2 linked regions of the Homo sapiens genome follow. The protein of the gene in region 1 binds, or shares a complex with, the protein of each later gene. Each region holds a gene or a part of one and is shown on either strand. Other genes may lie near its edges.

Evidence for each region.
Region 2: DHX16 (region 1) and PPIL2 share a complex: the UniProt entries of both Homo sapiens proteins name them as parts of the minor spliceosome.

The regions. Positions count from the first base shown.
Region 1 is NC_000006.12:30,652,344-30,656,014, reverse strand, and holds the end of DHX16 (pre-mRNA-splicing factor ATP-dependent RNA helicase DHX16), read left to right. Parts: intron 1-417; coding exon 418-580; intron 581-678; coding exon 679-840; intron 841-1,135; coding exon 1,136-1,309; intron 1,310-2,644; coding exon 2,645-2,773; 3' UTR 2,774-2,888; downstream 2,889-3,671. Other genes in the region: uncharacterized protein C6orf136, read right to left, coding at 3,100-3,213, 3,298-3,367. UniProt on the Homo sapiens protein: Required for pre-mRNA splicing as a component of the spliceosome. Contributes to pre-mRNA splicing after spliceosome formation and prior to the first transesterification reaction.
Region 2 is NC_000022.11:21,661,378-21,669,046, forward strand, and holds the start of PPIL2 (RING-type E3 ubiquitin-protein ligase PPIL2), read left to right. Parts: upstream 1-4,634; 5' UTR 4,635-4,722; coding exon 4,723-4,754; intron 4,755-7,669. UniProt on the Homo sapiens protein: Has a ubiquitin-protein ligase activity acting as an E3 ubiquitin protein ligase or as an ubiquitin-ubiquitin ligase promoting elongation of ubiquitin chains on substrates.

The sequences.
Region 1 (3,671 bases):
TGATTCCACTGCGCCCGGCCCCTTGAGGAACTTACTTGTTCCTAAGGTTTCCAACTAGAACATTTAGATGTAGCTGTGGAGGGATGACCTTTAAATGCCATTCCTCTGCTGTCAGAGATCTTTTCCAAATGCACATAGTGAATGCACACTTTCTGCAGAAGCCTCAGAATTCCCCGGTGTTTCCTGCTCCTGCCTCCATGGATGTCCCTCCTTTGTGACTGTGTTTCATCTATGGCCCCTACTTCCTTGACCCCCAAGCTGCTGCCAGAATCTATCTGCTGGCTGCTTTGTAGCCATTATGCCAACCAGCCTTCCCCACATGAGGAAACATCCATCACACAGTGATCACTCCCCACTCCACCATATCTGTTCCTATGTGTCTTGCTTTGAACTCATGCTTTCCCCTTCCTGTCCCAGGTACAGCTGTTCAGAGGAGATCCTGACAGTGGCTGCCATGCTCTCTGTCAACAACTCCATCTTCTACCGACCAAAGGACAAGGTCGTCCATGCTGACAATGCCCGTGTCAACTTCTTTCTCCCTGGCGGTGACCACCTGGTTCTGCTAAATGTTTACACACAGGTCACTGGGCTTGGGTGAGTGGGAATGAGAGACACTGGGGGACTTTAGTCCTGCTGTATACTTAATTATCTCTCCTTTCTTTTTAACTGTCTTCCCAGTGGGCTGAGAGTGGTTACTCTTCCCAGTGGTGCTATGAGAACTTTGTACAGTTCAGATCGATGCGCCGAGCCCGGGATGTGCGGGAACAGCTGGAAGGGCTCTTGGAACGTGTGGAAGTTGGTCTCAGTTCCTGCCAGGGGGACTATATCCGTGTACGCAAGGTCAGCATTTCTTCAGCCTCCTGCTTTCCACCCCCAGTACCTTCCCAGGAGCAAGCTTCTCTGGGGGCATGCAGCATTTCCTCCAGCGTGAGAGCATGCCCTCTTCCCCTTGTGTATGACGTGTCCTCCCAGGGCCCTTTCTTCCCCAGACCACTGAAGGTTCATTCCTGGGAAGTTCTTCATGCATTCCTTACCTCTCTAGTTTTCCTGAAGCCTGAACTAAAAAGGTAGTGCATTCTTAGGGTCCCCAGATGTCTGCCTTTTCCATTGATTTTCTTTCCTGCCCGCTCCTTAGGCCATCACTGCTGGTTACTTTTACCACACGGCACGGTTGACTCGGAGTGGCTACCGCACAGTGAAACAGCAGCAGACAGTCTTCATTCATCCCAACTCCTCCCTCTTTGAGCAACAGCCACGCTGGCTGCTCTACCACGAACTTGTCTTGACCACCAAAGAGTTCATGAGACAGGTGAGGAGAACATCCTGTGCCCACGCAGGTGGAGACTATGTAGAGAGATGGTGTCCTGGCAAGCTAAGAACCCAGGTTCAAGTTGCTGGGACTGGTACAGAAAGAGGAAGGTAGGGTAAAATAGAAAGACATCCTTTGTTTTTTTTTGTTTTTTTTGAGACGGAGTCTCACTCTGTTGTCCAGGCTGGAGTGCAGTGGCGCAATCTAGCCTCACTGCAACCTCTGCCTCTGGGGTTCAAGAGATTCTCATGCCTCAGCCTCCCAAGTAGCTGAGATTACAGGCGCAAGCCTCCAGGCCTGGCTAATTTTTGTTATTTTTAGTAGAGATGAGGTTTCACCATGTTGGCCAGGCTGGTCTCAAATGCCTGCCTCGGCCTCCCAAAGTGCAGGGATTACAGGTGTGAGCCACCATGCCCAGCCCAAAGACATCCTTTCTAACAGGTGTGTCAGCATCTTCCAAGATCTGAGAACTAGACACTTATTCAATAAATATTTGAATGGCTACTGTATAGGTGCTGGGGCTATAATGAACAAAGCAGTCTCTGGTCTCACAGAGTATAGTCTTTATGTTCTAGGCTTTTCTTTTTTTTGAGAGTTCCGTGCTGTTGTAGCCCAGGCTGGAGTGCAGTGGCACCATCTCAGCTCATGCAACCTCCGCCTTCGGTTTCAAGTGATTCCCCTGCCTCAGCCTCCAGTGTAGCTGGGATTACAGGTGCCCACCACCACGCCCAGCTAATTTTATATTTTTAGTAGAGACTGGGTTTCACCATGTTGGCCAGGCTGATCTCGAACTCCTGACCTCATGATCCGCCTGCCACGGCCTCCCAAAGTGTTGGGATTACAGGTGTGAGCCACTGTGCCTGGCATGTTGTTCTAGACTTTTCTTGGGAATAGCTTATTTGGTATCTTGAATAACATACAGAGGTGTATCTGCCCTTTGGGTATATAATAATAGAGCCAGGCACCTTTACACCTAGCCCTGCAGTCAAAGAGGAAAGATAACTTTTGACCATACACATAAGGATCTAGGTTGGGGCTGGGCATAGTGGCTCATTTTTGTAAACCATCCCAGCACTTTGGGAGGCCAAGATCAGCCCAGGCAACATAGTGAGACCCCAACTATACAAAAAATTAATGGTGCACTGTGATGTGTGCCTGTAGTCTCAGCTACTTGGGAGGCTGAGGCAGTAGGACTGCTTTGAGCCATGATACGCCACTGCAGTCCAGCCTGGGCAATAGAGCAAGACTCTGTTTCAATTTAAGAAAAAAAAATAACAACAACAAAAGATCTATGTTGGAAAGAAGGGAACTCCATTGATCTTTTCTCTCTCCTAGGTACTGGAGATTGAGAGCAGTTGGCTTCTGGAGGTGGCTCCCCATTATTATAAGGCCAAGGAGCTAGAAGATCCCCATGCTAAGAAAATGCCCAAAAAAATAGGCAAAACACGAGAAGAGCTAGGGTAAGAGAAGGACGTAAACAGAACCTGACACCAGCTCCTTTTCCTTCTATACATTATTTAATACCTATTAAATAAAATTATTTTTGGAATAAAGCTTGTGGGAACATTTGGGATCTAGAGAAAGTGATATGTGAAATTCTATCTCATATAGTCAGTTAAACTTTATTATTTACAAGTTAAATTACACAGCAGCTTTACACAGCATGAGATGGAAAGGAAGGAAGGAGAGAAACGAGGAGAGGAAGCTGGCTCCTGAGATTCTTGGCTGCCTCCACCTCCTTCTCTTGGGCGTAGCAGTCTTCAGTGCTGCCTCCACTCCAAGGTCAAGGATCAGGGCTTGGAACACAGGTTTAAGTCAGGTTCTGGCTCTGACAGCCCCAGGGCCACCAGGGCTCCCACTAGCAGCTTCTTCACAGGCGTTGGAGGTGAGTGTGAAGGCATCAGCTGCAGGGAGAAAGGTTAATGCCAGTTGGGGGAGGCACACAAATGTTCTACCCTTTACCCCACCCAGCCCTACCTAGGACTCACTTTATCTAGACGATGGCGACAAATGAGGCCACTGGAATTCAGGTAGAAAGTGGAGTAGGCATCATAGGTCCTGGGGAATAGAGGGAGGCTTACTGAGGGAGAAGGTGACTGGTCCCAAAGCTGAATTCAAGCATTTGTTTAAACGAGTAGTCCCTAAATTCTGCTACATATTAGATCACCTGGGCAACTTACAAACATCTCAGTGCTTAGGTTGTGCCCTGTCTCAATTAAATCAGAGTGTTTGGCGTCAATATTTTTTAACGATCCTTGGGCATTTCTACTGTGCAGCAGTTTGGGAACTGCTGGTTTAAAAACTTATATCCAATGTTTGTGGCTGAGTCTAACAATTTATTGGGATTCTACTCCCAGGCGGA
Region 2 (7,669 bases), on another chromosome or scaffold:
CCTGTGGGCATGGCTCCCCATGCTACCCTCTGCCTGCAGTGCACTGGGTTAGAGCCAGGATGGTGTCTGGCCCCAGGGAGGTGCGGAGGCATGCTTACCAGGGGGAGCCAGGGCAATGGAGCTTGGGCAGGCTGTTTCCAGCCACATATGAGAAATGGAAGCCTCCAGGGTTGAGAACCAAGGGAGTCAGATCAACCAGTCAGATCAACCATGTGGCTGCAAGACAGGGCAGAGAGGGGACGTCAGCCCCAGGCCCCTCCACACCTCATGTGCAGTTCTACAGCACGGGCACAGGCACTGCCTACACAGAGCCAACCTCTGAGCCCAGACCCCTCCACTGTAAAATGAGAATAAGCACTCAGGATGGTTGTGAGGATTCACTAACAGACTGAGAAGAAATGGTGACCTAGGCTGGCACATGGGACACTCCCCAAGATGCTCCTTTTTCATTTCCCTCAAGCCCAGAGTAAACCCCTTCGACCTCCTTGGGTTTCGTGACAGGCCATTCCAGTTTAATTTCACTTCAGATCTTGAAATGTCCAAATTCTTCACCTGGAGGATAGAAAGGAAATCTCAGGATAAGTTTGTTGGCCTCATTTGAAGAAAAGTACCTTATAGAAGAGCCATAAGAATGACGTGGCTTTCATTCACTCAGCAGATACATTGGGACCATCTCTTGTGCCCACCTTGAGCTTGGTTAGGGGTACAGGAGATGGGGTCGGGCACGCTGGGAACTAAGGAGGTCTGAACCCAGCCTGGGGGATGGAGGACTGCCTGGAGGTGGAGGCCAGACCTGAATGAGTCACACAGGCTAAGTGGGGAGTCAAGAGGTGCAGGCAGTTAGGCCACCACACCTGGCCGCTCATCTTTTTCAGCATTGAATAATATTCCATTGCCTGGATATGCCACATTTTATCATTCGCCCAATGAAGGATATCCTGGTTGCCTCCAAGTTTTGCAATTATGAATAAAGCAGTATAAACATCTGTGTGGAGGTTTTAGAGTATACATAACTTTTCAACTCATTTGGGTAAATACCAAGGAGCATGCTTGCTGAATCATAGGGTACGATAGCCAAACTGTCTTCCAAAAAGACTGTACCATTTTGCATCCAGCAATGAATAAGAATTCAAAGGCCTTGGCTGGGCACAATGGCTCATACCTATAATCCCAGCACTTTAGGAGGCTGAGGCGGGCGGATCACGAGGTCAAGAGATGGAGACCATCCTGGCCAACATGGTGAAACCCTGTCTCTACTAAAAATACAAAAATCAGCAGGGCGTGGTGGCTCATGCCTGCAGTCCCAGCTACTTGGGAGGCTGAGGCAGAAGAATCGCTTGAACCCAGGAGGCAGAGGTTGCAGTGAGCCAAGATCGTGCCACTGAACTCCAGCCTGGCGACAAAGTGAGACTCTGTCTTTAAAAAAAAAAAAAAGAATTCAGAGGACTTTTTGTGTAAGGAACTCACACTGTTTTATAAAAAGACAATTCAGAATTCTGGCCGAGCGTGGTGGTGCACTACTGTAATCCCAGCAATTTGGGAGGAGTGAGGTGGGGGATCACTTGAGCTCAGGTATTCAAATTAGCCAGGCATGTTGGTGCGCACCTGTAGTCCCAGCTACTTGGGAGGCGTGAGTGGGAGAATCTCTTGAGCCCAGAGGGTGGAGGCAGGCACCTGTAGTCCCAGCTACTCGGGAGGCTGAGGCAGGAGAATTGCTTGAACCCGGGAGGTGGAGCTTGCAGTGAGCCGAGATCACGCCACTGTACTCCAGCCTGGGCAACAGTACGAGACTCCATCTCAAAAAATAAAAAGTAATAATAATAATAATAATAATAATAATAATAAATCTTTAAGTTCACCAATAACAATAGATACAAAATATTCCATCAAACGGGTGGAACATCATTTACTCAACTGTTCTTGCTTTTTGAAATATTTCTCCAATGGGGTCAATTTTTAGGTTATTGGTGCATTTTGCTTTCTGACTGAGTCATCATGGTGCATCACCACAAATGGGTTATTTTTAATTGGTTTGTATTTATTTGTTTGCTTGCTTATTTAGAGACAGAGTTGTGCTCTGTTGCCCAGGCTGTAGTGCAGTGGCGCGATCTCAGCTTACTGCAACCTCTGCCTCCCAGGTTCAAGCGATCACCATGCCTCAGGCCTCCTGAGGAGCTGGGATCACAGGCACATGCCACCACGCCCAGCTAATTTTTGTATTTTTAGTAGAGACAGGGCTTCACCATGTTAGCCAGGCTGGTCTCGAACTCCTGACCTCAGGTGATCCAACCGCCTTAGCCTCCCAAAGTGCTGGAATTACAGGCGTGAGCCACCGCACCGACTGTCCCCTCCCCACACCCCGGCCCTTTTTTAAAGAGACAGGATCTCACTCTGTTGCCCAGGCTAGAGTGCAGTGGCTTGATCATAGTTTACTGCAGCCTCAAACTCCTGGGCCTCAAGTGATCCTTCCACTACAGCCTCCCAAGTAGCTGGAATCACAGGTGCTGCCACCATGCTGGGCCTAAGATTCCAGCCCTTAAGGAGCTACATCCCATCCACTGTATGTGTGTCATGGAGGCAGTGGTTGTGTCAGGGAGGGTGCTCAGTAAACCGGGACACAGACTGAATTACACAGGATTACAAATTGTGAGGAATTGTGACAGACTTTATGGGAGATGCATGGAAGTGGGTGGTTAGGGAAGGTCTCTCTGGGGAGGTGACACTTATGTTAAAACCTAGAGAATAAGAAGCCAGCCATGAAATAAGGCAAAGATAGCTGGCTTTCGGTGACTGGGTGGATGGTGGTACTGCTCAGCAGAGTGGGGACTGGGAGAAGAGGGAGGATTGAAAATTCTGCTTTATGGCCGGGTGCGGTGACTCATGCATGTAATCCCAGGACTTTGGGAGGGCTGAGGCGGGAGGATCACCTGAGGTCGGGAGTTCGAGACCAGCCTGACCAACATGGAGAAACCCCTTCTCTACTAAAAATACAAAATTAGCCAGGCGTGGTGGCGCATGCCTGTAATAATCCCAGCTACCTGGGAGACTGAGGCAGGAGAATCGCTTGAACCTGGGAGGCGGAGGTTGCAGTGAGCCAAGATCACACCATTGCACTCCAGCCTGGGCAACAAGAGCAAAACTCCATGTCAAAAAAAAAAAGAAAAAAAAAAAGAAAATTCTACTTTGACCAGACATGTTAATTTAATTTTTTTAGGCAGAGTCACTCTGTCACCCAGGCTGGGATGCAGTGGCCTAATCTTGGCTCACGGCAACCTCTGCCTCCCCAGTTCAAGCTACTGTCTCGGCCTCCCAAGTAGCTGGAATTACAGGTGTGTGCCACCACACCAGGCTAATTTTTTGTATTTTTAGTAGAGATGGGGTTTTGCCATGTTGGCCAGGTTAGTCTTGAACTCCTGACCTCAAGTGATCCGCCTGCCTCAGCCTCTCAAAGTGCTGGGATTGGCCGGGCGTGGTGGCTCACGCCTGTAATCCCGGAACTTTGGAAGGCCAAGGCAGGCGAATCAGGAGGTCAGGAGATCGAGACCATCCTGGCTAACATGGTGAAACCCCGTCTCTACTAAACACACACACACACACACACACACACACACACACAAAGTGCTGGGATTACAGGCGTGAGCCACCACGCCCATCCAGACATGTTACATTTCAGATCAGTGGTTACCCAAGTGGAGATCAGGAACCTGGAGTGCTGGTGACTTAGTACTGGGAGTCATGGGATACAAATGGCATTTAAAATTAGGAGCCTAGGCAAGATTACCCTGGGCCTGAGTGTAGCTAGGGGCCCAAGGTACTGATCTGACCCAAGGGAAGGGTCTGGCAGAAGAGACGGAAGGGATCAGGTAGGGCTTTGGACCTCTAGGCTTGATGGCCACCTGCTGCTGGGCCTCCGAGGGGCCTGGAGGCGGTGGGGACCGAATATGCAGAGAGAATGAGAAGTGAGCGAGTAGAACGAGAGTGGTACATGGCTTTGAAGGCATCTGCCACGGAGGCGGGAAGGGATGGGGTGGAGGCTCATGAGACTTGAAGCTCTAGGAGGACGTTGAAAAAGACCTGAGCGCTGGCCGGGCGCGAAGCCTCAGGCCTGTAATCCCAGCACTTTGGGAGGCCAAGGCGGGAGGACTGCTTGAGCTCAAGAGCTCCAGACCAGCCTGGGCAACATTGTAAGAGCCTGTCTCTACAAAAAATTAACAAATTAGCCGGGTGTGGTGGTGCGTGCCCGTAGCTACTCGGGAGGCTGAGGTGGGAGAATCGCTTGAGCCTGGGAGGTCGAGGCAGTAGTGAGCTGTGATTGTGCCACTGCACTCCAACCTGGGCGACAGAGCGAGACCCTGTCTCGAAAATAAATAAATAAGACCTGAGAACCCAGTATGGGAATGGCCCTGAGCCGTGGCTAGGGGGGTAGACAAGGCGGTCCAGACAGACCCCTCAAGAAGATGGGGCTTCGAGGCTGAGGGAGCTCGGCCCCGAAAAGACGCCTGCGGGAGATGGCACACCTAGCTAGGACCCCATACTGGGCAGGCGATCCTTCCGAGCATGAGCACCTGGCGCTAGCGAACCACAATTCCCAGCACGCCAGGCGCCCGTTTCCGGGGCGCGCCGCGGAACCCGGAAGTGGTCACGGAACTCGGCTGCGGCTCCATGGTCTGAGTTGTCAGCCGTTGTTTTTTCGTGCTCGCTAGTCGCCGCCGCCGCTCCGCCATGGGGAAGCGACAGCACCAAAAGGACAAAATGTAAGTTGAGCCGCAGTCGGGAGCGGCGCTCCACTCTGCCTCAGTGAACCGCCTGTCCCGCACTGCGCGCCGCTCGCCTTCCCTCTCAGCTACTCCCCAGAGCACAGCCCAAAGGTCACTTCCTCCCGGAAGCTGCCGCCCTGTCTCCAGTCAGGGTAATGACCCTCGGGCCGCCGCGCTCTCCCGGGGCCGCGGCTCCGATGACGTCAGCTGCGGGCTCGAGCGCAGCCCGGTTTTCCTTACTCTGGTTCTGCCCGGACCGTCCCCCGTCTGTTCGCGAGTTTCGCCCTTGAATGAGTAGTCTCTACCTCTTCCGTACTTCACGTCTCGCTGTGTTCTGGTTCATGCCTATCAGCCTGCAAACGTGCTGCAGAGCCTTCTAATTTAAAGCAAACCAGGTCGGGCGCAGTGGCTCACCTGTAATCACAGCACTTTGGGAGGCCGAGGCGGGCGGATCACCTGAGGTCAGGAGTTCAAGACCAGCCTGGCTAATACGGTGAAACCCCGTCTCTACTAAAAATACAAAAATTAGCGGGGCGTGGTGACGGGCGCCTGTAATCCTAGCTATTTGGGAGGCTGAGGCAGGGGAATCGCTTGAACCCGGGAGGCGGAGGTTGCGGTGAGCCGAGATCGTGTCACTGCACTCCAGCCTGGGCGACAGAGCGAGACGCTGTCTCAAAAATAATAAATAAAATTTAAAAATCCACCCGTGCCCCGTGCCCCACGTCCCACGTTCCCCTCCCGCTGCCGCCGTGTTGTTTCTCTTAAGAACAAGTGAGAGACTAGTGGCTTCATGCTGTTTTCTGAGTCTCTTGAAACCACTCAAGTCAGAATTTCGACCCCAGAACTGTTGGGCTTCTCAACAGTATGTCACACCGTTGACCACTCCCTCTTTCTGAAGCCCTCCTTTGGTATCTGGGATTTCACCTGCTCTTTGTTTTCTCTCGACTTCAGCGGCCTCTCTTTTCAGGTTCCCAGCGACTTCTTGTTGCTAAATATAGTATTCAATCCTCAGTCCTCATTTTTTTTTTTTTTTTTTTTTGAGACGCAGTTTCGCTCTTGTTGCCCAAGCTAGAGTGCAATGGTGAGATCTTGGCTCACCGCAACCTCCGCTTCCCGGCTTCAAGAGATTTTCCTGCCTCAGCCTCCCGAGTAGCTGGGATTACAGGCATACGCCACCATGCCCAGCTAATTTTGTATTTTTAGTAGAGAAGGGGTTTCTCCATGTTGGTCAGGCTGGTCTCGAACTCCTGACCTCAGGTGATCCACCTGCCTCGGCCTCCCAAAGTCCTGGGATTACAGGCGTGAGCCACCGCGTCTGGGCAGCCTCAGTCCTCATTTTGTTGGGCTTCTCAACAGTATGTCCCACTGTTGACCACTCCCTCCTTCTGAAGCCCTTCTTTGGTATCTGGGATTTCACATGCTCTTTGTTTTCCATCGACTTCAGCGGTCTTTCTTTTCCCAGTCTCCTTTCTGGACCCTCCTCCCTTCTCTCAGATCTCATACGTTTCTTTTCCATAAACATTCTCTGTGGGTGATATAATTTCCCAGTCATCTATAAGCTGCTTTCCCCAGTCTTGTGTAGTTAGTGGCTTACTTAATATCTCCACTGGAGGACTGAAAGACATCTCAAATTTTTTTTTTTTTTTTTTTTTTTTTTTTGAGATGGAGTCTTGCTCTGTCGCCCAGGCTGGAGTGCAATGGTGCCGTCTTGGCTCACTGCAACCTCTACTTCCCACATTCAAGCAATTCTCCCACCTCAGCCTCCCCAGTAGCTGGGATTATAGGTGCCTGCCACCATGCCCATGCTAATTTTTGTATTTTTAGTAGAGACAGGTTTTCACTATGTTGGTCAGGCCGGTCTCGAACTCCTGACGTCGAGTGATCGACCTACCTCTGCCTCCCAAAGTGCTGGGATTACAGGCGTGAGCCACCGTGCCGGGCCAGACATCTCGAATTTAATATGCCTTAAACAGAACTCTTGATTTTCAGCTCTTGAGCCTGCTCCTCCCTGTAAACTAAAAATAAAACCCTAAGTCCCCCCACTGGCTAAGCAGACACCCTTGTGGCCAAGAGAACCCCAGGAAAACCTTAAAACTGAGTTCCTGGCCATGATGGGATAGAGATCAGCTGTGCCTTGTTATATCCCCCTCCCTTTTGTGGCTTAGACACAACAACTGACCAGCATTAATGTTGAAATAGAGATCATAAGGGGCCAGGCACGGTGGCTCACACCTGTAATCCCAGCACTTTGGGAGGCTGAGGCGGGTGGATCACCAGGTCAGGAGATCGAGACCATCCTGGCTAACACGGTGAAACCCCATCTCTACTAAAAATACACAAAAAAATCAGCTGGGCGTGGTGGCAGGCGCCTGTAGTACCAGCTACTCGGGAGGCTGAGGCAGGAGAATGGCGTGAACTCACGAGGTGGAGCTTGCAGTGAGCCGACATTGCACAACTGCACTCCAGCCTGGGCAGCGAGCAAGACTCCGTCTCAAAAAAAAAATAAATAAAATAAATAAAAATAAAGAAATAGAAATCATAAGATTGACAAAACAGACTCTTTGTGGCAATAAGATACCATTTTTTTTTTTTTTTGAGACGGAGTCTCGCTCTGTCGCCCAGGCTGGAGTGCGGTGGCATGGTCTCCGCTCACTGCAAGCTCCGCCTCCCGGGTTCATGCCATTCTCCTGCCTCAGCCTCCCGAGTAGCTGGGACTACAGGCGCCTGCCACCACGCCCGGCTAATTTTTTGTATTTTCAGTAGAGACGGGGTTTCACTGTGTTAGCCAGGATGGTCTCCATCTCCTGACCTGGTGATCCGCCCGCCTCGGCCTCCCAAAATGCTGGGATTACAGGTGTGAGCCACCGTGCCTGGCCCTCTATTTTTTTTTTTTTTTTAGTAGAGACTGGTTT